Homo sapiens: one gene and its partners. The protein of the gene in region 3 interacts with the protein of the main gene of each other region in a pairwise test. Each region holds a gene or a part of one and is shown on either strand. Other genes may lie near its edges. The genes, in order: ACSL5, PEX13, PEX12, THSD7B, FXYD6, C5orf46 and BNIP2.

Region 1 (3,500 bases), on a different chromosome or scaffold from region 3:
ATGTTCTTCTCTGGATAGTATGAGGAAGTCATAAGCCAGGTAGGGTACAAACCTAATCCCCTCCAGCTGCCTCAGCTGATTAACCTACTTGCATTTCTGCACCTCTTGCTATAAGCAGATTGTTCTTCTCAGTCCATTAGCATAGACTTCCAGGAGTTCTGATGATATACCTACCGGGAGCCAGCGACCAATGTCTCCTGTGTGAAGCCAGCCATCACTGTCCAGGGCTTCCTGTGTCTTCTCAGGGTCCTTCAGGTATCCTTTGAACACGTTTGTACCCTTGATGCAGACCTGCACAGCAGACATACAAGGCGGTGACAATAGCAAAGGCTGCTCCTCCCAGCGTGGGCAGTTTATGAAACACCTGCTCCCCTTAAATCATTTGATGGCTTCCACTACACTGTGAAGAGCACCAGATCTAAGTCTCCACTATAGGGGATAGGAAAGTGAAGTTCAGAATGCTTAATTCTTTGCTAACAATCTCAAAGGGGCCAAATCCAAGTTTGCTTACAATTATTTGCTCTTTCTGATATAAACCTCCCCACCATGACTGTCTGACCACAGGGCATGACCTACCCACCTCTCCTTCATTATTCACTGTAAAGTAGTTCATGTCAGCCACATCTTCCAGCTTCACGTAATTGCAAGCCAGGGGCACCCCAACGTGACCTAGAACATACCGTGCTGAATTAGCTGAGAAACTCTTGCATGGTGATAATTCCAGGCACATTTCTAAGATATTTATGAATTGACTCTAGAAGAGGAAGACTGAAAAATCACCTGGCACCAATGCAGACTAGCCAAGATAGGCAGGCCTGGACCCAAAACTTGAATTTTGCATTTGCCACATTAGTCCAGAGAACTGAAGTTATCTAAACTCCAAAGTCCTAGTTCAGTTAGAACCTTTCTCCCAACCATGGCACCTCCTGCCCAGCAGATGGAGGACTTACCTGATGTCCAGTCCCCAGGTAATGTAAATGTACAGCCACCTGTGCATTCTGTTTGACCATAAGCTTCATACACCTGGGAAACCAAAGAAGAGCTTTTAGACTTACTCAAGATAAAGTGTGAGCTGGCCACGTGCTATGGTCAAGACACGAGGAAAGCAAGGTCTCTAAGGGTTCGAGACCACTTAGTGTCTTAAAACCTTGAACTTGGAGGGGGCGGTGGCTCATGCCTGTAATCCCAGCACTTTGGGAGGCCGAGGCGGGAGGATCACCTGAGATCAGGAGTTTGAGACCAGCCTGGCCAACATGGTGAAACCCCATCTCTACAAAAACACAAAAAAAATTAGCTGGGCATGATGGCAGGTGTCTGTAATCCCAGCTACTTGAGAGGCTGAGGTGGGAGAATCTCTTGAACCTGGGAGGCAGAGGTTGCAGTGAGCTGAAATCACGCCATTGTACTCCAGCCTGGGTGACAGAGCGAGACTCCGTCTCAAAAAACAAACAAACAAACAAACGAACAAACAAAAAACCTTGAACTCATACCCAAGCTGCAAAGTATTTACTACCAAGCCTTCTGGCCATTCAGAAACCAAAAGGGTCTGGAAATAGACCAAAGCATAGAACTTTATATGAAAATGCAGCATTTTGGCCAGGCATGGTGGCTCATGCTTGTAATCCCAGCACTTTGGGAAGCCAAGGCGGGAGGATCACCTGAGGTCATGAGTTCGAGACCAGCCTGACCAACATGGTGAAACCCCATCTCTACTAAAAATACAAAAATTAGCCGGGCCTGGTGGCACATGCCTGTAATTCCAGCCACTCAGGAGGCTAAGGCAGGAGAATTGCTTGAACCCAGGAGGCGGAGGTTGCAGTAAGCCGAGATTGTGCCATTGCACTCCAGCCTGGGTGACACAGTGAGCGAGACTACATCTCAAAAGAAAAAAAAAAGAAAAAAAAGAAAAGAAAATGCAGCATTTCAAGTAGGTGGGAACATGTAAGTTATTCACTAAGTGGTGTGCAACCCAATAGCAATTGAACTTGACCCTGAGCAATGGAGCATCACTGAAGGAACTGAAGAAGGGGAGTAGTATTTTTTAAGGGAAATAGCCCCCACTATGATATAAAACAAGGGTGGGCAAACTTTATCTGTACAGGCCAAGATAGTAAATATTTTCCACTTTGTGAGCCATCTGGTATCTGACTCAAAACTTGACTCTGCCAAAATAGCACAAAAGCAGCCACAGTCCATATATAAATGGATGGACATAGCTGTATTTGAATAATATTTTTAAAATAAAAACCAGCTGCAGACTAGTTTTAGCCAGTGCTACAATTTGCCAATCCTTGGTATAGAAGATAATCTTGACTGGAGAGAGGCTGGGGGCAGGAAACAAGTTCAAGGGCTGCTGCAATGGGGGGTGTGGCCTGTGATAGGCAGAGTTGGGAGAGAGAGGAAGGCTTAGAGAAGACATTTCGGGAAGGAGTTAGCAACAGGACCTGCTGATCTATTGGTTTTAGGGGCTTAAGGAAAGGACAGTATTAAAAATGGCTAAGAGGATGCTAATTTGAAGGACCTCAGGCCTTGGCATCATTCTGGAGTCTCTTTTGATTGTGGTTATACAGATAGGGGACTCATGAGGAAAAGTCTATGCCTGTTTTGTTCATGCTCTGCATGGTTGGTTGAATGAATGAACTAATTATCCATCTGGGTGAAAATTGAGACAATATGCATGGCCAAGCACTTGGACAAATTTCAGGTGGAACTGAGACTTAAAAGGAAAAAATGGAAAATGGTAAGTTTGCCAGAAAATAAGGGTGAAACAGTCTTATGAAATATTGGGGGTTAGGAAGTCCTGTCTAAGCAGTTTAAAACCTACAAATAGAAAAGATTATTTAGTTTGACTATAAAAACATTGGAAATTTTTATATGGCAATACACAGGGCAAAAATGATGAGACCAGGAAAAATGTTTCCAACATGACAAAAGTTAATATTACAGGTTGACTATTCTAATCCAAATGTTTGAAATCCAAAATGTTCCAAAATCCAAAACTTTTTGAGTGCCAACATGATGTTCCAAGGAAATGCTTTTTGGAGCATTTCAGATTTTGGATTTTCAGATTCAGAATGCTCAACTGTTTTATAATGCAAACATTACAAAATTGGAAAAAAATGCAAAATTCAAAACACTTTTAGTCCCAAGCATTTCAAATAGGGAGATACTCAACCTGTATTACTCTGTGAAGAACTCTTAGAAATATAAAAAAGGACCAAATTATCTTTTGCCTGTTTTTCTATAAGGAAGTAATAGAATAATTCATGGATAAAATATACATGTCAATAAGCAATAGAAAGATGTTTGGTGTAAATAAAAGAAACAAAACTGTAATAAGATTTTTCATTTATCTGATTAGCTAATATCTGAATGACTGATAAAGTCTGTCACTGGCAAGAGCATGGGCAAATAAGGCCTTGTATACTTGCAGAAATGTGCAAAAAAGATCTTTCTGGAAGAAAGTTTGATAATATACATTATTACACACACACACACAC
Region 2 (3,500 bases), on a different chromosome or scaffold from region 3:
TCCCAGGCTCAAGTGATCCTCCCACCTCAGCCTCCTGAGCAGTTGGGACTACAGGTGCATGCCACCACACCTGGCTAATTTTTTATATTTTTTGTAGAGATGGGGTTTCACCATGTTTCCCAGGCTGGTCTCAAACTCCTGGGCTCAAACGATCCATCTGCCTTGGTTTCCTAAAGTGCTGGGATTACAGGTGTGAGCCACTGTGCCCAGGCATCACTTTAAAGTTTAAAATTTAATAGGTTTTAGTACACTCACAGAGGTGTGTAACTATCACCATGTCTAATTCAGAAGATTTTCATCACCTCAAAAAAGAAACCCCATATTCATTAGCAGCTATTCCCCATTTCCTGCCCACCCCTCCACCCATCTTTGGCAACCATGAATCTACCTTCTGTCCCTCGGTTTGTCTATTCTGGACATTTCATATATAGTTAATTCTTGTTATTTAAGATAGTTATATCCTGTAAAGTTGCTGTGAACTCTGAACCAGCAGATACCAAATCACTGCTTCTTTCATCAACCAATCAATACATATACTTATTTTATATGTTTCTGTTTAAAGTCACTTTATTCCAGGTATATTGTTAACTCATTAACAACTCATGGCCAACAGCACAATAGCCCATGCCTGAATGAAGCTTATCTAACACCTGTATTTTCTCTGTAAGGCACACTACAGCATTCCTGTGCTTAGGAACACTAGAGATCACTTCAGCACTATGCTTGGGGGCCATTTTAGACAGCAAAATCACCATAAAAAAATGTGAAAAAACCTGGCACTAAACAGACTTTGATAAAGACAACTGTTTACAGCATGAGAGCTGAAATAAGAAACCAGAGTGTTGCTTTTTTGTCTCTCAGTTGTCCCTCAGTTGTCAGCTGAGGGACAACTCAGATTTTTACCTGATGTACGTTTGTCCTCAAATGACTGTGATAGTGCCAGGAATATTGATTTTCAGATTACAAATAAATTTTAGTGAGCAGACCAATTTGAAAATACAGAATCCACAAATAATGAGGATCTATGGTAAATGGACTCATACAATACGTAGTATTTTGTGACTGGCTTCTTTCACTTAGCATAATGTTTCCAGGGTTTATCCATTTTATAGCATGTATCAGCACAGGCAGCCCTTGGTATCTGTGGGGGAGTGGTTTCAAAATCTCCTTCAGATACCAAAATCCATGAATGCTCAAGTCCTTAATATAAAATAGTATAGCATTTGCATATAACCTATGCACATCCTCCTGTATACTTAAAATCATCTCTAGCTTATAGTATCTAATACACTGTAAATGTATGTAATTACTTATACTGTAGTGTTTAGGAAATAATGACAAGGAATAAAGTCTGTACATGTTCAGTACAGATGCAGTTTTTTTTTTTCTGAATACTTTTTTTTTTTAAGAGACAGGGTCTCACTCTATTGTCCAGGCTAGAGTGTTGTGGCATGATCATAGCTCACCGCAGCCTCCAACTCCTGGCCTCAAGTGATCCTCCCACCTCAGCCTCCCAAAATGTCAGGATAACAGGTGTTAGCCAACACGTCTGGCCTATTTTCCGAATATTTTTGATCCACAGTTGGTTGATCAGATGTGGAAGGCCAACTGTATTTCATTAATTTTTATTGCCAAATTATATTTATTCACACATCAGCTTATGTATATTGGGGCTGTTTTTACTTCTTGGCTATTACAAATAATGCTGCAATGACCATTTATGTACAAGTTTTTGTACGGACATGTTTGCTGGGTTATATGGAAACTCTATATTTAGCCTTTTGAGGAACTGCCAGATTGTGTTCCAAAGCAACTGTACCATTTTACATTCTCGCCAATGTATGAGGATTTCCAATTTCTCCACATCCTTGGCCACATCTGCTCTTATATTTTTCATTATAGCTATCCTAGTGGGCGTGAGGTGGTATTTCACTGTGGTTTTAATTTGCATTTTCTTGACGGCTAATGATGTTGAGCATATTTTCATGTGCTTATTGGTCGTTTTACAATCTTATTTGGAAAAATATGTATTCAGATACTTTGCCCACTTTTAAGTTCGCCCTCTTTTTTTTTTTTTTTTGGAGACAGGGTCTCCCTCTGTCATTGAGGTTGGAGTGCAGAAGCGCAAACACAGCTCAAGTAATCCTTCTGCCTCAGCTTCCTATGTAGGTGAGACCACCACTCCCGGCTAACTTTTTGGTAGAGATGAGGGTCCCACTTTGTTGCCCAGGCTGGTCTCAAATACCTGGGTTCAAGCAATCCTTCCACTTCTACCTCTCAAAGTGCTGGGATTACAGGCATGAGCCATTGTACTTGGCTTAGCCTTTTTATCACTGCTTTTTAAATTATTGTGCTACATGAGTCAAAAATATCTTTAAAAATTTTTTTGAACAAAAATTCAATTAAGGCTCACACACTGCATTTGGTTGGTTTGTTTCCTTTCTTTTCTAAATGAGAACAATCCCATTTTTTCAAATATCCCTGACCTTCTAAAGAGTCAACCCAGTTTTTTTCTAGAAATGTCCTACCCCCAGCCCAGGCATGGTGGCTCATGCCTGTAATCCCAGCACTTTGGGAGGCTGAGGCAGGCGGGTCCCCTCAGGTTAGGAGTTCGAGACCAGCCTGGCCAACATGGTGAAACCCCGTCTCTACTAAAAATACAAAAATTAGCCGGACGTGGTGGTGGGTGCCTGTAGTCCCAGCTACTCGGGAGGCTGAGGGAGAATCGCTTGAACCCCAGAGGCGGCTGTTGCAGTGAGCTGAGATCATGCCACTGCCCTCCAGTCTGGGTGACACAGTGAGACTCTGTTTCAAAAAAAAAAAAAAAGAAAAGAAAGAAATGTCCTACCCCCAGATTTGTGTTTCCCCCAAGTGTTGTTTAACTTGTACTCTTATTTCGCCTCCTATTAAATTAAGATTGCATTTAACGGTTTGATTGCAATCAGGTTCAATATTTTTTGGCAAGAATAATTCATAAGTGATGTTGTTTACTTCACACAGTATTACTTTAGGAGGCGCATTTGTGAAGCTAAATTTGATTAGTTGGTTAAGGAGGTGACTATTAGATCTTTCCATTAAAATGTATCTTTCCCTTTGTAATTAGTATATAATCTATGGGATGACAGTTTTGTACCACAAATATTCTATTCCTCAGCAACTGTTCATTTGATAGTTTAGCATCGATTCATCATCCTTGCCTGAAACAAATATTAGATGTGGAACTGCAAAATGGTAATTTTCTAATCCAGGCTAAAGTTTTAATTTAGACTTGTATCGTAATATTATAAACAAGCTACTAGAACTCTATTTTTTTTTCTTTTATTGGATCTGATATTTAAAAATGGAACAAAACTTAAAAGGAGCCAGTGAACGGCCAGATAGTGCAGTGCATTCAGGCTTTAATGAAACAGTTCTGCTCCCAAGTATAAGCAATAATAGAGAAAACAGAGAGACAAACAAACAGACATTATCTAGATTTAACACAAGACAGACTTATGGAA
Region 3 (4,115 bases):
ATTTCCTGCTTGATTTAGTTGATGCTACCTCTCAACTTTGTATTTTTGCTATTCACTTAAGAAAAGCTTGTACATAACAGTTACTATTAAACAAGCACCTAATATGTATCCAGGTGCTTCATATGGATAAACTATGTCTAGTCTTAAAACTCTGTAAGGTAAAAATCATATATCAATATAATGTCTTTTGGTAGAGTAAAAAACACTTTTTATAACTATAATTAAGGACAATTTGTAAGGTTTTCTCTCCTATTGGAATAACTAAATCCAAACCTTGTTTTTGAGGGTTCTCATTATGCAAACCAATTATTTTTATAACATAAGGGCCTCTAGGGCAGTAAACAATACCTTCTATTCCCAGCTATTTAGCCCAGAGGTGGCACTTCCCAGAGGAAGGGAGGAGAGGTGGAACTCTCATCCAAATTCAATAAGGCTGTGTCAGCCAACTTCAGCGAGACAAAGCTGTACATAACATAAAAGCACTTTACAAACCTTAAGGTAAATCACATTCATTTTGGTATAAAAACGGCATGAAAGGAAACTTTCTGTCAAGTGTCCCCAGTGCATGCTAGTTACAATTCATAAAGCTCCCTCTGCGTTAGTACTGTATTCATATCGCTGGTGGTGACATATACAACTGTGTTCAAGGATGGAGACCATTTTCATCCAGTATAGCAAGTGCATGCAGTTATGCTTGAATATAGCCAAAACCTGGAAGACGTTAAACTACCAGCTTGGATGAAAATTAACCGTCTCAAGTACTGAGGAACAAGCATGAACCTTTCTCAATCCAATCATCTTTCCTTATAATTGGCGGCAATAAATCTAAGGCTCCTATCTCCTGCTATGTCGCTTTAAATCATTTCTGGAAGGCTAAGACATATAAATTAACCACCATCCCTGCCGCACGCGTACAGCAAAGTCCTTTCCACCTCCAGATTCCCTTCCTCCCACCGCCCCTAGCTTCATCGCCTGCAGGAACACAGGGCTCAGCAACGGGCCCGAGCTCTGGCTCCCGGCGCCAGACGTCTGCGCGGTGCCCCAAACAGCTTGTCAAAAAGACCTCGCAGAGAGAGGTTCAGAGCTGTAGCTTTCCAGCGAGGCTACCATGCAGACCCAGCTACGAAAAGTAAACCAAACTAGCCAAAACCAGCCCACAAGGGCCCTCTTCTGTTTCAGCGGGGCGGGAGCGGAAGCTCAGGTGGGTCATAGAGTTCTCTAGTTCTGGTTTCCGGACCGCATTCGGAACTAGAGCGCCTCTCTTCCGCCAGGCATCCCAGAGGTCCTGGTGGTTTCATTTCCGGGTGCGGCTTCTGTCATAAAGCGGAGACCTCCCTTCAAACGTGGCGTCGTGGGTTGTTTGCGCCTCGCCTGGGGTCAGCGAGCAAGGACGGGCGCGGGCGGGGATACTCAAAGCCAACAGCTGGAGTCAGCCCTTGTGTCCCGGGCTCACAGTGGCACGACTGAATCCTCAGAGTCGGCTGGCTTTTGAGCTCTCACGATTGGGGAGGAGGGGGCGTTTCTGGTTCGCAGCTCCAGAGGATTGCGTTCCTTCCCCCATACCTGTCCCCCACAGTCACGCTCTGCCCTGACGTGCAGCATTTGACAAGTTACCCCCTCGCCACATACTACTTCCACCCACGTCCGAGTTAACTTTGTTCTTAACCTTCTTGAGACTACCCTCGGCCTCCAGGTCTTTTTTTCCCAGTTCATTTTTGCCCATAAGATTGAGTTTCGAGTTTCAGATATCATGCAGAAAGTTTACCTTTAAGACTGAGCACCCATCTGATACTCTTCCTCCCGAAAAAGTTCATGCTCACGAGAGAGTTTGTGGGAAAAGTGAAAGCCAGTACACGCAGGAAACTATGGCTGAGCACGGGGCTCACTTCACAGCTGCTTCTGTGGCCGATGACCAGCCATCCATCTTTGAGGTGGTAGCACAGGACAGTTTAATGACAGCAGTGAGACCCGCTCTTCAGCATGTGGTCAAGGTAAGGTATTAATTCTTGGAAAGGTTTTAGGGACAACTGGGTAAAAAACAAACGAATAATTTGTGCTTATTTGGTAGCCTAGCGTTTGAAATAGCCAATTTGCAAATAACTTGTATCCCATGACTTAAGAGTTACTGAGTCTCTGTTATGTGTAGAGACCTGTACTGAATACCCAGCATTTCAGGGTCCAACAGTGACTTATTTAAAACAAATTGTGTAGACTTTAGAGGAAAAGGGGGAATGTAAATAGGTGTAGAACTTGTGTAATGGAATGAATTTCACTTATTGCTTTATTTTGCTTTAGGTTCTTGCAGAATCAAATCCCACCCACTATGGCTTCTTGTGGAGGTGGTTTGATGAAATCTTTACTCTGCTAGATCTTCTGCTCCAGCAACATTATCTGTCTAGAACCAGTGCCTCATTTTCTGAAAACTTTTACGGCTTAAAGAGAATTGTAATGGGGGACACTCACAAGTCTCAGAGATTGGCTAGTGCTGGTCTCCCAAAGCAGCAGCTTTGGAAATCTATTATGTTCCTGGTTCTTCTTCCCTATCTGAAAGTGAAGCTGGAGAAGCTGGTTTCTAGCCTGAGAGAAGAGGATGAATATTCTATTCATCCCCCTTCTTCCCGCTGGAAACGATTTTACAGAGCTTTCCTGGCAGCCTACCCATTTGTGAACATGGCCTGGGAAGGATGGTTTCTTGTACAACAACTTCGATACATCCTAGGAAAAGCTCAGCATCACTCACCACTGCTGAGGCTGGCTGGAGTTCAGCTAGGTCGACTGACAGTTCAGGATATACAAGCTCTGGAGCACAAACCAGCTAAGGCCAGCATGATGCAGCAACCAGCCAGGAGGTAAGGCCTTAACATTTCCAAAAGATCTTTAGTTAGTAAATTCGAAAATCGTATCCCAGTTTTGTAAAATTCACCTCCCTGTTAACTTTGTGGCATTTCATAGAGTCATAGAAAAGCTATTCCTTGTGTCCATAAAACAAGGACTGTCATCCTGGTAACCTTCATCATTCTAGGTATACTTTAGTGCATACTTGCTATGTCCCAGGCCCTGTGCTAGGTGCTTGCTTTACGTACATTATCTCAATCCTCAACACAACCCAATGAAGTAAATGTATTAGCTCACAGTTGAGGAAACTAAACCCAAGCAGTTAAGTACCTTGCCAAAGTCACGTAGGTACATAGAAGGTGGCAGAGCTGGGATTCAAACCAAACCAATACAATTCTAAAGACTGTGCTCTGTGAGCCACTGCACCCAGCCTAAGACTGTGCTCTTAATCATGATGCTGTGCTCCTTCTAGTTCATATTTGTGTTCTCCTACAAGTTCAAATATATACATTCCTCAATACTGCTAAGTTTTTTATTAAGTGAATTGGGTTTTTTTTTTTTTTTCTGGATCACTATCTTCCACTAAAAAAAGGGAGGTCTATATAATCAAATTCTCTGATTTATCTTTCAAAACACAAAACCAAACCCTAATCATGTTACTAAAAACAAAGCTTAGCTCCTATGCTCCTAAAATATTGTAAGTTAGAATCACTTAGAATAGATCCTTAAGGAGATAGTACCAGTCTACCAACCATTCAGTCCCCCAGTGATTCTGATGAAAAATGTAAGAATTGCATTTATATTAGTCACTTTGTAATGATACCTAAATAAAGTTTCTCTCTTTGCCTCCTTGTTCTTTTCTCCCAACAGTGTTAGTGAGAAGATAAACTCAGCTCTGAAGAAAGCTGTTGGGGGTGTTGCCTTATCCCTGTCTACTGGCCTTTCTGTGGGTGTATTCTTCTTGCAGTTCCTTGACTGGTGGTACTCATCTGAAAATCAAGAAACCATCAAGTCATTGACTGCCCTGCCTACTCCACCACCACCTGTACACCTAGACTATAACTCTGATTCTCCCCTCTTACCCAAAATGAAGACTGTGTGCCCACTGTGTCGTAAAACCCGGGTGAATGATACTGTTCTTGCCACCTCTGGCTATGTGTTTTGTTACCGCTGTGTGTTTCATTATGTGAGGAGTCACCAAGCTTGTCCCATCACAGGTTATCCAACAGAAGTACAACATCTGATTAAACTCTACTCCCCTGAGAACTGAAAGGGAATCA
Region 4 (3,500 bases), on a different chromosome or scaffold from region 3:
GCTCACTGCAACCTCTGCCCCCCGGGTTCAAGCAATTCTGCCGCAGCCTCCCGAGTAGCTGGGATTACAGGCATGCGCCACCACGCCCGGCTAATTTTGTATTTTCAGTAGAGACAGGGTTTCTCCATGTTGGTCAGGCTGGTCTTAAACTCCTGACCTCAGGTGATCCGCCTGCCTCGGCCTCTCAAAGTGCTGGGATTACAGGCGTGAGCCACCGCGCCTGGCCTTTATACGGTAAAACTTTTAAAATCAACTTTTTCATTGATTTTTTTTTTTCTCAACTACATTAGAAGACACTCAAGTTCTGATGCCTTCTATGTATATGGTCAGAGCATGAAAAAACAGCATGGAACATATTTGTTTGTATTTGGCTTTGGCTTTCTCAGTGAAGTGGAGCAGCAGTGCTGACCACCAGTAAACAGGCGGCTAATAAACAAAGGTGAATTAGAGAATGAAGTGAGTCAGGGATCCAGCACCATCACATTCCAGATAATCATTGAGATACAGATGTATGCATTTCATCTGTCCATATTTTATGAGAGACAATGTGTTATTGACAAAGGAAAATTAAAACAATTATTATAGAGCAGAGCTATTAATTCTAGACCTGAGACAAACCTCCCGAGCTGTGTGTGAGTGTTCTCATCTGTTACTCTCCATCCATCTCCTTACCAGAGCTGCTGCAGAAGGAGGGGTCAACAGGTCTTCCATTTTTATCAGAACAGGCTACTGCTCGAAAGCGCAGGCCTTCTCCACATTCTTTGCTGTCTGCTTGTACCCGCAGTCCTCGGTGAGGCTCCCTTCTGCCTTCTGGAAGAATGCAATCTGACCAGTTTCCATAAGGTTGGGATATAAATTCATCACAAGGACATAGTTCTGTCTCCACTAGAGGGTAAAGGTCAGAATCCTGGCATTTCTCCTTCTTTCTGCTTTTCCCTGTTCCAACAAGAGACATTAAGATATTAAATGCTTATCTGCTGTTTTGTTAAAAGTCACTCACACTTTTGTATTTGTAATCTTTTAGAATATTAAATAAAATAAAGCCTTTGTTTTCTTCACTCTTTTGTCATGAAAGTAAATCCTGAGACAACGGAAACAACTCCCAGAACAACTGTGAAATTCAAGTTAATTTGAAAAAAGTAGAAAATGGTTTAATGTTTGAGAGTGGCATAAAATATTTAGAAGATGTTTGCTACAGCTAGAGAATTCCAGTTAATTTATTTAACATTTTCTCTGTAAGTTTGCTGGAAAAAACATACTGATAACCCTGTCCCCATTCTCCTTGACTAACGATCGCCAGGGAACCAATGAAAGCATCTAAGTGGTTAACTCCCTCTCTTCTTAGTAGAGGTCTCTTGCAATGTGATGGACAAAGTTAAACTCATTTTGGTCTCTGCCATCAGGCAGCTCCCAAACATTTATACAAACAATAAATTGAAATAAATGATCAAGTCATACTGGATAATTTAATCAGAGAAAAAGCTCTTTCATTTTGAGAGATTCTTCTAACTTAAGTATTCTGAAATATGACTTTACCTTACCAATTCACTTTGATGGACCTGTTAGTTTTGGTCCTATCTCTGAGTAAGACAATGCAGTGTCATTTTTCACAGCTGTAAACACTTGGTAATCATGTTTAGTGGATTCTAAATCAGCCTGTAACTTGATTCAACTTTGCTGTTAACACAATTCCTCTGGATTACTAAAAATTTTCCTAGATCTAATAATTCCACCTTTTGTTTTCTCATTAATGAGTCATTAGCTAGAGTCATGGCTGGTTATAAAATATATAGGCAGTTTTATTGGTCTATTTTTTGTGTTTATGGCTTTTCTGAAATGCCTGATACAAGCTGATGCATGGGCTACTTTCTCATTGCCACATGGTTTGCATTACATACAATTCTAGAGTTGCTGATGGGATGATTGGCTCTATGGTCTGCCATGATGCTTATGTTTGCAATAAATAAGAATTTCTAAGCTGGGCATGGTGGCTCACATCTGTAATCCCAGCACTTTGGGAGGCCACTGGGGGAGGATTACTTGAGATCAGGAGTTCGAGACCAGACTGGCCAACATAGTGAAACCCCATCTCTGCTAAAAATACAAAAATTAGTCAGGTGTGGTGGCACGTGCCTGTAATCCCAGCTACTCAGGAGGCAGAGGTAGGAGAATCACTTGAACTGAGGAGGTGGAGGTTGCAGTGAGCTAAGATCGCATCACTGCACTCTAGTCTGGGCGACAGAGCAAGATGCTGTCTCAAAAAAGAAAAAAAAAAAGAATTTCTGCAGGACCTGAAGTTGAGCTGGTAGTAGATTCAGCTACACTTCTGATAGAAGATATTCACTTGCCTCTACCATTAGGACACTAGAATAAGTTTGAAAAGCACAGCTTCCACCACAGCCATGAAAATTTACTGGCTGAGAGATATATCAATAATTAGTGAGGGGCTCCTTCCTATTAGCATTTAGCAGGTTCAAGACCTCCCTTTTTTCAAACTTCCATAAAATATTGTTGAATCTCTCAGTCTTCATCTCTTCAGTTTCATTTCTCTTCTAAACCCACTTAACCCTGGATTCTGTCTACTTATTTCTGGAAACCACTGTTATCAAGCAACAAACAAACAACAACAAAAACAAGAAACAAAGCCAAAGCCCTGGAATATCTTTTATTCCTTATCTTTAAGGTCTAATCACTCAATGATAGTTCAGAGTATTGACTACACTTTCATTCTCGAAATATTCTTTCCAAGTTCCATCGTAACATATCTTTTTGTTCCTCACCCTCACCCCATGCCCCCACCTCTCTCTTGCCATATATTATTTATTTTTACTTGGTGAACTATTCTTCTTCTCTACCTCCCTTAAACTGATGGGGTTCCCCAAGGCAACATCTTAGGTTCATCTCTCTTCTGATCCTACAACTTCACCCATTTGAAGAGTGTTAATTATCATACATATTTCTTCAATTTTAAATGACTGTCTTCATCCAAGATTTCTTGCTCAAGCTTCCAATCCATAGACTGAAAAATCTACATCTAAAGAACCAATCACACCCATTCTCTTTACATCACAATGTTTCTTTCTCCTGCGTTTCTCAATTCTACCAATATCACCAAGTTAAAAGTTGGAATGCCCTGAATTATTCTGTTGAACCCCCTATATCTGATTAATGACAAAGGTATATCACTTCAAATGCATAAAGATTCATTGCATCAGTCCATTTGTTTCCATTCCAATGGGTGTCACCCATATTTAGCCCCACCTGCAAATCTCCAGCTGAAATTACAGCAGATTTCTCCAAGATCTTGATGCCATCATACCTCACTACCTTCAATCTGTCCACCACATTGCAGTCAGAGCCAGCTTTCAAAGTACAAATCTGATCAAATCACTGGTCTACTGAAAACTCTGAAGTGGCTTACCATAGTACAGAATGAAATCCAGACTCCTCTCCTAGGGTCATCAAGGACCTATATGATTTGTGCCCATTTGTATCTGCCT
Region 5 (3,500 bases), on a different chromosome or scaffold from region 3:
TGCCTGAGTTGGCCTCGCAGTACTGTTCTGTGTTTCTGCTTCTGAGGGCTGTTGTGAGAAGTCCATGGGTGATGGCTGGGATGCCACAGTGTCACGGTTGTCAGTGATGGTGAGGTGACAGCAAGACCTGGGAAGGGGGCTGGGGCCCCACGGACCAGGCTGGGGCCCAGAGAATGGGGCTGCCCCAGTTCAGAATATCTGATGTGGGCAGAGAGGGCCAAGGATGAGGGGATGTGATTGGAATGACAGTGACCCGCATGCAGCTGGAGGACAAAGCCAGGCCGGCACGCACTGAAAGACCAGAGGCTAAGATCTCTCCACCATGCCTCCGCTTATGGTCCAGCTTGGGATCTTTCCAGGGAGACTTCCAGAAAACAGGCCTGGATTTGTGATTTGTGAATTCTGTTTCTGTTTCTAAGGAAGAGGCCTTATTTCTTTTCACAGTCAGTTATTTTCTGTCTCTCTCTCTTCTTCTTCTTCTTCTTCTTTTTCCTCTGTCCAAGTTTCTCTTCCCTAGAAAGAACTTCATGTTTTCATGTTAAAGATAAAGGTGCCTCCAGGTTAAAAATAAGTCCCCTGCTATATGACAAGAGAGTTTTGCCTCTCCCGCTCCACCCTGTGCAGCCGGGCTGGGTTGGGTCTGGGCCGGTTGAGTCCAGGGTACCTGACGACTCAGCCTCCAGCACCCTCGCAGTGGGAGTGCCCCTCTTCCATGAATGAGGGTTGGAGGGGCAGCATTCGAGCCGTTGGGCTACTGAAGGCGCCTGACAGGAGAGGGAAAGGCCACCCTGGGAGGTGTCAGCCACAGTGATGCGCTGGGCGGAGGTGCCCTGTCCTGCTCCTAGACTGTCCAGCTGCCTTCCTGGCAGCTTGGGAAATTCAGCAGTGTCTGCAGCCTCCTTGAGCCATGGACTGCTGGAATTTCACCACCCTCTGCTCTGTCCTTTCCCTTGCCAGTCTCTGAGTCCAGTCTCCTCCTCGACTCCTCTCTGGAACATTGCTGGCTGGGCGGGGCGGGCAATCATTTCAAGTTAGGTGATTTAACAATAATTGATGCTTAATTGTTTATTTGATGGGCATTTAAAATGCAAATTGAGGGAACTGGTTGCATTTTCCACTGATGGATCTGTGGCCTCTGGTCGACCCAAAGCACTTGTTTTAAAAGGCAGCTTTAAAAGCCCTTGATGGTTGTTTGTTTGCTCTGAGGCTCTGAACCAGAGAAGCCCAGCTCCTGTTACAGATTCATCAAATGCCGGAAAGGTGAGCAGGAGCCGGAGTGCTGGGATGGGGTTGAGGATTGCTTTTAACTGAATTTTTGAATTTTTATTATTTTTCTACGAATAGACTATCTTTTTAGAACAGTTAGATTTACAGAAAACTTGGGCAGATTGTATGAGTTCCAATTTTCTCCCCTGGCATGCAGTTTCTGCTATTATTACGATCTTACATTAGGGTGGTACATTTGTTACAATTAATGAACAAATATTGGTACAATAATATTGACTAACATTGACACTTTATTAAAATGTCGTTCGTTTGTACCTTATGTCCTTTTTCTGTTCTAGGATCCCATCCAGGATACCACACTCCATTGAGTCGTGCCTCTTTTGGTGCCTCTGGGTGGTGACCTTTTCTCAGGCTTCCCAGGACTTTGACAGTTCTGAGGGTCACTGGTCAGGTGTATTGTAGGATGTGGCCCTGTTGGGATTTGTTCGATGTTCTCCTCATGATTAGACTGGAGTGATGGGTTTTAGGGAGGAAGATCACAGAGGGAAAGTGCCATTTTCATCACATCACACCAAGACGATACAATCAGGATGATTCATTGCTGTTGACGTTGATGGGACTGGGTTTTCCATCCCTTTCATGCCCCCCACGCAGCACAGTTTCAAGGCCTGGTGATTGGAGCTGTGTTCTCTCCGCTCCTCGAGACAAACATACCAAACCATCAGCCAGCACTTTCGGCCGTCCTCACCATCCCAGGTGAGGACAGATCATGGGGTAGCACAGAGACTTTTCCGATAGGAGAATCTTAATGAAGCGAGCATGAAACAGAATGTGCTATGCGCCAAATTAGTGCCAACGACAGGCGACAGGCGCTCTTGGAGTCTGGAGAAAGGGGTCTACGTGGAGTGGCAGCTGGACAAAGATAGCATTTATTAACCTTGGCTGCACATCAGAATGAGTGGGGGAGATTCTCAAAATTACCGATACCTTGGCTACACTGCCCTTGGCTACACTGCCCGGGTTTAGAGCTGAATGTGGCTGAGTTGATTTCCAGGCATCTTTTTTCTTTTCTTTCTTTCTTTCTTTTTTTTTTCTGAAGCTCTTCATGTGATCCTAAGGTACAACCAGGGTTGAGAACTGGAATAAACAAAGAAGGGAAGGGCATTGTAAGTAGAAGGAACAGAATATACAAAGGCACGCAGTTAGAGACACATGTGGCAGAAGATGGAACGTAGACCATCTTAGCTGAAAGTAATGAGAAGATACTGGAGGGGTAGAAGAGAGGTACACTTAGAGATTTTCATATGCCAGAAAGAAGTTTGGATTTTAAAAAACTAAATAGGACGTAGAGGCACCACCGAATGCCTTTGAGTTTGGGAGGGAGGTATTCAGAATACACTTTAGAAAGGTTAGTCCTGCAGTAATCAGTGTCCAGCACAGAGGGGAAGGAGGAGGTTAAAGATGGGTCCAGCTACTGCACTATTAGGTAAGTTACCCAGAGGAGTGACGGAAAGGAAGTTCCAATTAGAGAGATACTGCAAGTGCGAGCATGGCTAGGACTTTGCCACAGATGCAGTGTGGAGATGGGGAAGGAGAGAGGAAGCCCCGGAAACTTGGTGAGGCCGTAACCTCCGTCAGGCAGGGAGGCAGGGATTGTGTCTGTCTTGCTCACTGCAGTGTCCTCAGTGATGAGTGAAGTGCTGGAAAGCATTAGGCCATCAATAAATATTTGTTAACTTGGTTACTGGAAGGATAAGGGTGCCATTGTTTCCAAAATTACACCTTGTTCCAAAAGTACGCTCTTTCTCCCCCAATTTCTCCACCTAAATGCAGGCAAATTTCTCTGCTGTGGAAAGCAATCTGATTAAATAACTCAGGCCAAGATATAAATGACTGTTAGGATTGGGAGTATTTCTCTTGTAGTGATGCCGTGACATTTAAACGTCTCTCCTTGGGAAGAATTGTTGTGGAGGCAGATACATTTTTGAGTAGGGGTGGCCTTTATTTCGATTCTACACCCTCATCTAATTCTGAGCCATACCAGAAAAAAAGGTGATCTGCAGCTCTGCAGCCCACGGTGAAAGGCTGCCGGCTAGTAGTTCTGTTGGCACCCACCCTGAGCTGAGCTCCAGTGGACAGGATAGCCTACAACTGGTCTGGGACTCCATCCAGTACTCAGCATAAATGCACTGGTATTCTGCTAGGCAAAGTGCAGCGGGGCACTCAGCAGCTGTGAGATGGACAGAGGCTGAGAGGGACACAGGAGTGCCTGT
Region 6 (4,247 bases), on a different chromosome or scaffold from region 3:
GGCCTACTTTTTTAATGTTTTATTTTTGAAACAGGGCTTCACTCTCTCGTCCAGGCTGAAGGGCAGTGAAGTGATTACAGCTCACTGCAGGCTCAACGTCCTGGGCTCAAGACATCCTCCCACCTCAGCCTCCTGAGTAGCAGGGACGACAGGCATATGCCACCACAGCTGGCTAATTCTTGTATTTTGTGTAGAGACGGGGTTTCGCCATATTGCCCAGGCTGGTCTCGAACTCCTGGGCTTGAGTGATCTGCCCACGTCGGCCTCCTGAAGTGCTGGGGTCACAGGTGTGAGCCATCCTGCCTGGCCTGAGCCTACTATTATGTGCATAGTTATGCTAAGAGTCAAGGTAAAAAAAAAAAAAGACAACTGTAGATATGACCTTCACATAAAGTGCTGGGCAACCCAGGTACTCAGAAGGATTGGTTTGTTTTTATTGTGGGAAGGAGGCGGAAGCGGAACTCATGTGTAAGGTGCCTATCGTGCAGGTACTCCATCAGTGCTTTCAGCACATGCCTTAATCGTCATTTAGCTCAGCAGTGGTATCACAGTTACAGCAGAGAAGACAGATGCTCAGGAAAATTAAATGACTCACCTGAAATCACTCATCTAGAAAGTGGCTGACCCAGGGTTTGAACCTAATTTTTTTTAACTCCACAAAGCACATTATTCACATTGTATAATACAACCTCCAAACAATTGTTCTGTAAAGACATTTGCCAAATGCAAAGCAGTAATTTCTTGCATGAAAGATGAGATTTTTTCTCCTGTGTTTCTATCTGGCTACTTGCATAATAAATTCTATTGACTTGTTATTTTAATATGACACTAAAACCTGGCTTTTCAAGATGCAAGAAGCCTGGGATTGGAGTGGGCGGAAATCAAAATCTTGGCCTTAGCTTGTGAACCCCATATATATTGAGAGGTATTAAAGTGTGATGGATTGCATGCTCTGGAGTTTTATAGATCTGTCTGATTCCTGCCTTTAACAAAAAATTAGCCATGTAAACTTGCACACAGTGCTTAACTTTGCATCTCTCAGTTTCCTCATATGTTGTCAGGATTGAAAGATATTTTATATATTATATATCTATATATATATACACACACATACATATATCTATATTATATATACATACATATATCATATATATACCACTTATCGTAGTACCAATCCCAAGATAAACTTACCTTATATAAATAAATAATAAATGAAAGAATGAATAAATAAATGTTATCTGTTTTATTGTTACTATTAATAATAATAGCAGCAAAATGATTTATAATTCACTTTCTCCTCTAGTGCTTTAGAAGATAATATAAATTTTAAAAATGCTATTAAAATATTAAACGATTGATATCCTAGAAACAATCTTCAAAGTCAATAGTTTAATATTTTCTTTTTTCAAGTATTATATGGGATAGCCTTTATTTACAGTAACTACTTTGTTGAGTTTCTTAGTGAATGTGAATATAATGTTCTTAATAAACAGTATTGCTGATATTTGTAGAGTTTTAATAGTTTACAAAGTAATTAAAAAGCATATTCATTTGACCTGGTGAAGTTGATAGTTATCCCGTTTTACAGATAAAGAAACTGAGGTTCAAAGCAGTGAACGATTTAACCAGTTTCAGAGTTTATAAGAGACAGGGTGGTGCCTGGTCTTGGTATCAAATCTCTCCTTTCACTTCACTGTAGTGATTTCTTTAGGAGTAGAATGGACTGAATAATATCCGTGGCCATGTCTAGAGTAATTCTGTTGTAATGTCTGTCTGTGTGTTCTTCAGCCAAGTTACATTCAAAGGATTCTGTCACTAAATGTTTGCACTCCCTCTGTTTTCTGGTCTATCATTCTGAATGGAGCTCACAGACTTTTGCAGACAAACAGTAAATTAATTAATGAGAAGGCAGCATACAGCATGAGCTTCTATGTGCTTGGAAAAGGTGGGAAAGAAATAGTTGCTCGATAATAGTAGAAAGAATCTAGGAACCTAGGTTTCACTCCCAGATGCCACTTTCACCTGTATGTATGCTCAAGTAACTTGCCCTCTGCAACCTGTTTATTAACCTGCAAAAAGGAAAATGATAAAACTGTACATGTTTACATCATTGGATTACTATGAGAACCAAATGAGATTATACATGACAACAATAGCAGGTAGTATTTATTGCATGCTTACTATCAACCAGGTACCCTTCCAATTTGTTTCATTCCTTTTATTTAATTTTCATGATAACTTTACGAGAAAGTTAAATGTCCCCATTTATATGTGAGGCCTAGAGAGATTGAATAGCATTCCTAAAGTCACATTTCTGGTTAGTGGTAGAGCCAGGTACAGGAGTTTTATTCCAGAGTACATATTCTTCACCAATGAACATTATTAGGAATAATTATCAAAAAATAAATGCCAGTCAGCTCCCATGGAATTTATACTAGAATAGTGTCATTATATCATAAGAGCACATAAAAAAATTTCAAACTTCATACATCCACTGAAAATAGAGGCTAGGTTTTTATTAAAATTCTACTTTCTTTGTGTTAGAAGATACACCTCTTGTCTCCCAGGCCAGTGCTCTTTCTGGAGTGCCCAAAGACCCCTTCTTTCTTTTATGTTCTGAATCAGTGCCATCAGCTTTCTCTAGTCACTGCTAACTACTGAACAATTCATGGGCTGTGATCAGAAGCACTTACCTGCATAGCAGGTCAGGAATAAGACAAGCAGTCCCAGGACAACTGTCAGGCGAAGTACTGAGACAGCCATTCTGGTAGCACGGGGTATTCGTGCAGATAAATTGTTCAGATACATGTGAAACAATGCTCCATTTATAGGGCATAGATAGGTGACATCATCTGCTTTGGAATTTAGATTGTTGCACAAGATGTCTGCACAGCTTGCTTTTGGATCTGTACTAATGAGACATACCCTATCATTCAAACCAAACATTTTACATATAGGGAAAGAAAAACCCTCTTGATTTTTAAAATTTGTATCTATAAAGGGTTCTGGAGTGAATCTCTTGAGGCTAGTTTCAAGGCCAGCATTGATAATTAAAGGGATATCAGGTAGAATTGCTCGTCAGTGCCAAGCAGCAGGCAACAAATCAGATTGGCAAGGCAAGCCTACACCCTCCCTTTACACTCTATGCCTTCCCTCGTGCTCTGGGACAATCCCTTGTTCCCACATGGGCATGCCCTTTCACACCCCATGCGTCTGCTCTTGCTCTTCCTTCTTCCTCAGATACCCTCCTCCTTGTCTCCCTTCGGATCACTCCTACGTATTCCTCAGTTCAAATGGTCCTTCTTTGTGATACCTTCATGATAACCACTCCACCCTTCTCCAGGCAGTTTGTTACTTCATCATCTGCCCTATAGCACACTTGACCCCATTGTATAAGAACTAAGTGTTGGCTGGGCGCGGTGGCTCACACCTATAATCCAAGCACTTTGGGAGGCTGAGGTGGGCGAATCACGAAGTCAGGAGTTCAAGACCATCCTGGCCAACATGGTGAAACCCCGTCTCTACTAAAAATACAAAAAATTAGCTGGTCGTAGTGGCAGATACCTGTAATCCCAACTACTTGGGAGGCTGAGGCAGGAGAATCGCTTGAACCCTGGGAGGCGGAGATTGCAGTGAGCGGAGATCACACCACTGCACTCCAGCCTGGGTGACAGAGTGAGACTCTGTCTCAAAACAAACAGAAAACGACAACATAAACTGTCTTATTTATTTTACTTTTATTTTTCTCTTTTTTTTCCATCAACTTTTATTTGAAGTTCCAGGCTACACATGTAGCCAGCAGGATGTGCAGGTTTGTTACATAGGGAAACATGTGCCATGATGATGATTTGCTGCACAGATCAACCTGTCACCTAGGTTTCTTTCTTTCTTTTTTTTTTTTTTTTTTTTTGAGACTGAGTCTCGCTCTGTTGCCAGGCTGGAGTGCAGTGGCGCGATCTCAGTTCACTGCAACCTCCGACTCCCTGGTTCAAGTGATTCTCCTGCCTCAGCCTCCCTAGTAGCTGGGACTACAGGCATGTGCCACCATGCCCAGCTAAGTTTTGTATTTTTAGTAGAGACAGGGTTTCACTATGTTGGCCAGGATCATCTCAATCTCCTGACCTCGTGATCTGCCCGCCTCAGCCTTCCCAAGTGTTGGGATTACAGGCGTGAGCTACCGTGCCTGGCTGGCACCTAGGTATTAAGCCCAGCATCCATTAGCTATTCTTCCTGATGCTCTCTTTCCC
Region 7 (3,500 bases), on a different chromosome or scaffold from region 3:
TTAATTATTGGCTAGACACAGTGGCTTACACCTATGATCCCAGCACTTTGGAAGGCCGAGGCGGGCGGACTGCTTGACCAGGAGTTTGAGACCAGCCTGGGCAACATGGCAAAACTCCGTCTCTACAAAAAATACAAAAATTAGCCAGGTGTGGTAGTGTGCACTTGTAGTCCCAGCTACTCAGAAGGCTGAGGTGGAAGGATTGCTTGAGCCCTGGAGACGGAGGCGACAGTGAACCGAGACTGCACCACTGCACTCCAGCCTGGGTGACAGAGCAAGACCCTGTCTCAAAAAAACAAAACAAAAACCCATCAAAAAGCTTATTTATTTAGTGGTGGGTTGGACATCAGTCATATCAAAATTTACGCATGTGGGCATTAGAAGGATTACATAATTACCACATAATAATTACAGACAACCCTTCAAAGCTAACAGTCTATTACTATTACATTTGTAGTGGTCTGAATAACTGATGAAGGGACCTTTAAAACAATCCGGTATTAGATAAAGAAAAATATTTTTCATATGTTTTTATTCTCATCACCCATTACTATGCCCACCTGAATATTAGTGAAACAGACCTAAAAGCCCTGGTCTGTGGTAAAGCCAAAGTAACATTTTAAAATATTTAAAATATTGTTATAAAAAATTTGGAATGTATTTCTGATAAGGCATGCAAAATATATCAAATCCTCTTAACATCTGAAATATCCTTACCAACTAATTTCATAATTATTTTTAAACTCCCCTGAAACATTTTAACAATCTGTATCTGCATGGCCACACTTGCATCCAGTTGTTTGAAAGAAACATTTTAAACATTTAAACTGCTATCCTTTTTCTGTCACTGGGGACACTGGATCTCCCTGTTGTCAACATTTCTTCAACCCTCTTCCCCACAAGCCCCTCAAGAAAATGGTTTTGCCCCTTCTTCCCCTGCTCCCCAAAAACCTGCCATAGGGACTCATAGCTTCATACTCTTCTTAGCACCACTACTTATCATATCATGCAGTTGTCACCTTAAATAAGCTCCCTTGCACCTAGCTTCTGTAAAGTTTGGTTTAGGCTGGGCGTGGTAGCTGACGCCTGTAATCCCAGCACTTTGGGAGGCCGAGGTGGGTGGATCACTTGAGATCAGGAGTTCGAGACCATCCTGGCCAACATGGTGAAACCCAGTCTCTACTAAAAATGCAAAAATTAGCCAGGCATGGTGGTGGGTGCCTGTAATCCCAGCTACTTGGGGGGCTGAGGCAGCAGAATCGCTTGAACCCGGGAGGCAGAGATTGCAGTTAGCTGAGACTGGGCCATTGCACTCCTGCCTGGGTGACAAGAGTGAAACTCTGTCTCAAAACAAAACATGCCTCTCTACCTAAATTTAATTTAAAAATTAAATTTTATCATTTTCAGATTGACAAAAATTTATTATTTTTTAAGACTAAAGAAACTACAAAAAACAGAACGTTTTTGAAAGATACATGTAATCATTCTATTTATGGTTAAACACAAGTAAAAAAAAAATCAAGATAAAATAGTGACAGGTTTCAAACAATATATTTAAATAAAAAGTACAAATTCCATATTTTTTCTGATGTCTAAATTACTTAACAGTATTAAAAACTTTTTTTAAAAAGGCTTAATACAGCATATTTTATCAACAAAGGCAATTCACTGTGAAATCTATGAAGCAGCTGGCTTCAAAATATTCTACAATTACAAATCATATTTTTAATTTCAGCCACTTGTCTGTCGAATGCACAGCAATGCCTAGAAAGGAATGTGAAATCAGCATGATCTAAAATCACTGTCTACATTTCTATGTTAAAGTGTTGGTTAAACTGTGAAGTGTCATATAGAAGTGTAAAACTGATTCTATCACAAAGTCTACTAAATTCTCACTCATCAACAGAAACAAAATGTGTTCAAAGTTAAGAATGTTCCAGTTAGTTACAGTTGGCTCCTTAGAATGGTCAAGATAATTACATATAAATCTCTCACCGTAACTCTTAAGATTGTATTAAACTATGTTTTGCTAATTTAATTGCCAATATTTTAAAGATCTAACAAACTAGATCTAAATTCTACGTTTTTCTAAATTATTATACAAAATTCTAAGTATTTTATACCCTTGCCTTTCATCATCTATGTCAAGGTATCAATAGATAATAGTTTGTTATGCTCAAAGCAGAAGTGTTCAAAATTAAATTTAAAATAGAAAGTGAAGTGTTTAACTGTTAAATGGGACACTGAGATTTTAGGTATTTTATCACATGTAGAATTTGACTGGTTAGCAAGCCATTTAATTTAAGCATAAAAGGAAACCAATGTTGGTTAGCCAAAGTATATATGCATTGCAAATATAATAATCAACCCCAGGGAAATAAATTGAGAACTTTTAAAAAGTCTGCAAAAATATTTCAAAAGCACAAGTTAGCGATTTAAAGAAAATGGTGAAACAGATAAAGTCTTAAAATTATTTGGTGTTCCAAATACCATTTTTAGTAATTTCTCTGGTTTCACCATTAGTACTTAGACTAAGAAGGAGAGAGAAGGGTCTGTGGTTTTTAATTGCTAATTGGCATCATATATGGCAATAAAACATGGTGAATCCAAGTCATATTCAGCCTTAGGAACTCTGGGTTCACCCTGTATTTGGAAGTTGGGGTACATTTATATTTGCAAATGCTATTATCTTTGTCTACAAGCTAACCAACCAATAAGGAAGAGTTAGTCTGCAATGCAAATGGACTAGTCTAGATGCAACCCAGTCAAGGTGTGCATATACCTTTTTTGTTTCTTTTTAAACTTTTCTTCTTCATACCTTTGTAGGGAAGAGTTATTTCAGTAAATATACATGTTATGAAAATGAATAAAAACTTGAAAAAAGCTACTAAAAATAAACTCATTTAAATTTTCCAGCAAAACCAAAAATATTTACTACATGATGTAGAAAGTAAAAATTTACTTAATAAATCTGACTTTCATACATTAAATAGACTAAAACCTCAGGTGAGCAGAACAAAGAAACTTTTCCACATGCATTGTAATACTCAGTTATTTATGTTAACAGCCTTCTACCAAGTCCAAGAAGTTACATGGAAGAATGTGAATCTGATAATCAGAACAGAATTTCAGTCACTGGAAAACATTAAGGTTATGATGATTTAAATATTTTTATTTATTTAGCAATATGATTATTCAATAATAATATTGATGATCAGTTTACTCAAATTTGTTGAGCACTATGTTCAAGTTTGGAGAATGCTCTTTAGTACTGATCAATTAGAGAAATCATCTCTTAGATTATAAGTAGTCTATAAAAGTATAACATGAATCACAACCGGAAATAATTTATCCTAGTTCTTCAACTGACAGCCTGAAGAAAATGCTAACTTAGGGGGATGGTGTGGGAAAATGGCTTCTTCCTCTTTTTCTTTGTTACACACACACACACACGCGCGCGCGCGCACAGTTATAAAATATAATACATAAAGAATGAGTAT

What was found.
Region 1: the proteins of PEX12 (region 3) and ACSL5 interact in binary tests that used the Homo sapiens proteins (3 or more experiments, as listed by UniProt).
Region 2: the proteins of PEX12 (region 3) and PEX13 come close enough for resonance energy transfer, tested with the Homo sapiens proteins (one large-scale study listed by BioGRID).
Region 4: the proteins of PEX12 (region 3) and THSD7B interact in binary tests that used the Homo sapiens proteins (3 or more experiments, as listed by UniProt).
Region 5: the proteins of PEX12 (region 3) and FXYD6 interact in binary tests that used the Homo sapiens proteins (3 or more experiments, as listed by UniProt).
Region 6: the proteins of PEX12 (region 3) and C5orf46 interact in binary tests that used the Homo sapiens proteins (3 or more experiments, as listed by UniProt).
Region 7: the proteins of PEX12 (region 3) and BNIP2 interact in binary tests that used the Homo sapiens proteins (3 or more experiments, as listed by UniProt).

The regions. Positions count from the first base shown.
Region 1 is NC_000010.11:112,419,116-112,422,615, reverse strand, and holds part of ACSL5 (long-chain-fatty-acid--CoA ligase 5), read right to left. Parts: intron 1,024-3,500; coding exon 951-1,023; intron 670-950; coding exon 581-669; intron 292-580; coding exon 175-291; intron 1-174. UniProt on the Homo sapiens protein: Catalyzes the conversion of long-chain fatty acids to their active form acyl-CoAs for both synthesis of cellular lipids, and degradation via beta-oxidation.
Region 2 is NC_000002.12:61,027,720-61,031,219, reverse strand, and holds part of PEX13 (peroxisome biogenesis factor 13), read right to left. Parts: intron 1-3,500. UniProt on the Homo sapiens protein: Component of the PEX13-PEX14 docking complex, a translocon channel that specifically mediates the import of peroxisomal cargo proteins bound to PEX5 receptor.
Region 3 is NC_000017.11:35,575,772-35,579,886, reverse strand, and holds the start of PEX12 (peroxisome assembly protein 12), read left to right. Parts: upstream 1-1,315; 5' UTR 1,316-1,865; coding exon 1,866-1,991; intron 1,992-2,295; coding exon 2,296-2,849; intron 2,850-3,705; coding exon 3,706-4,105; 3' UTR 4,106-4,115. UniProt on the Homo sapiens protein: Component of a retrotranslocation channel required for peroxisome organization by mediating export of the PEX5 receptor from peroxisomes to the cytosol, thereby promoting PEX5 recycling.
Region 4 is NC_000002.12:137,409,045-137,412,544, reverse strand, and holds part of THSD7B (thrombospondin type-1 domain-containing protein 7B precursor), read right to left. Parts: intron 937-3,500; coding exon 673-936; intron 1-672.
Region 5 is NC_000011.10:117,866,659-117,870,158, reverse strand, and holds part of FXYD6 (FXYD domain-containing ion transport regulator 6 precursor), read left to right. Parts: intron 1-3,500. UniProt on the Homo sapiens protein: Associates with and regulates the activity of the sodium/potassium-transporting ATPase (NKA) which catalyzes the hydrolysis of ATP coupled with the exchange of Na(+) and K(+) ions across the plasma membrane.
Region 6 is NC_000005.10:147,903,739-147,907,985, forward strand, and holds the start of C5orf46 (uncharacterized protein C5orf46 precursor), read right to left. Parts: upstream 2,801-4,247; 5' UTR 2,764-2,800; coding exon 2,694-2,763; intron 1-2,693.
Region 7 is NC_000015.10:59,665,321-59,668,820, forward strand, and holds part of BNIP2 (BCL2/adenovirus E1B 19 kDa protein-interacting protein 2), read right to left. Parts: intron 2,819-3,500; coding exon of another isoform or gene 2,783-2,818; intron 1-2,782.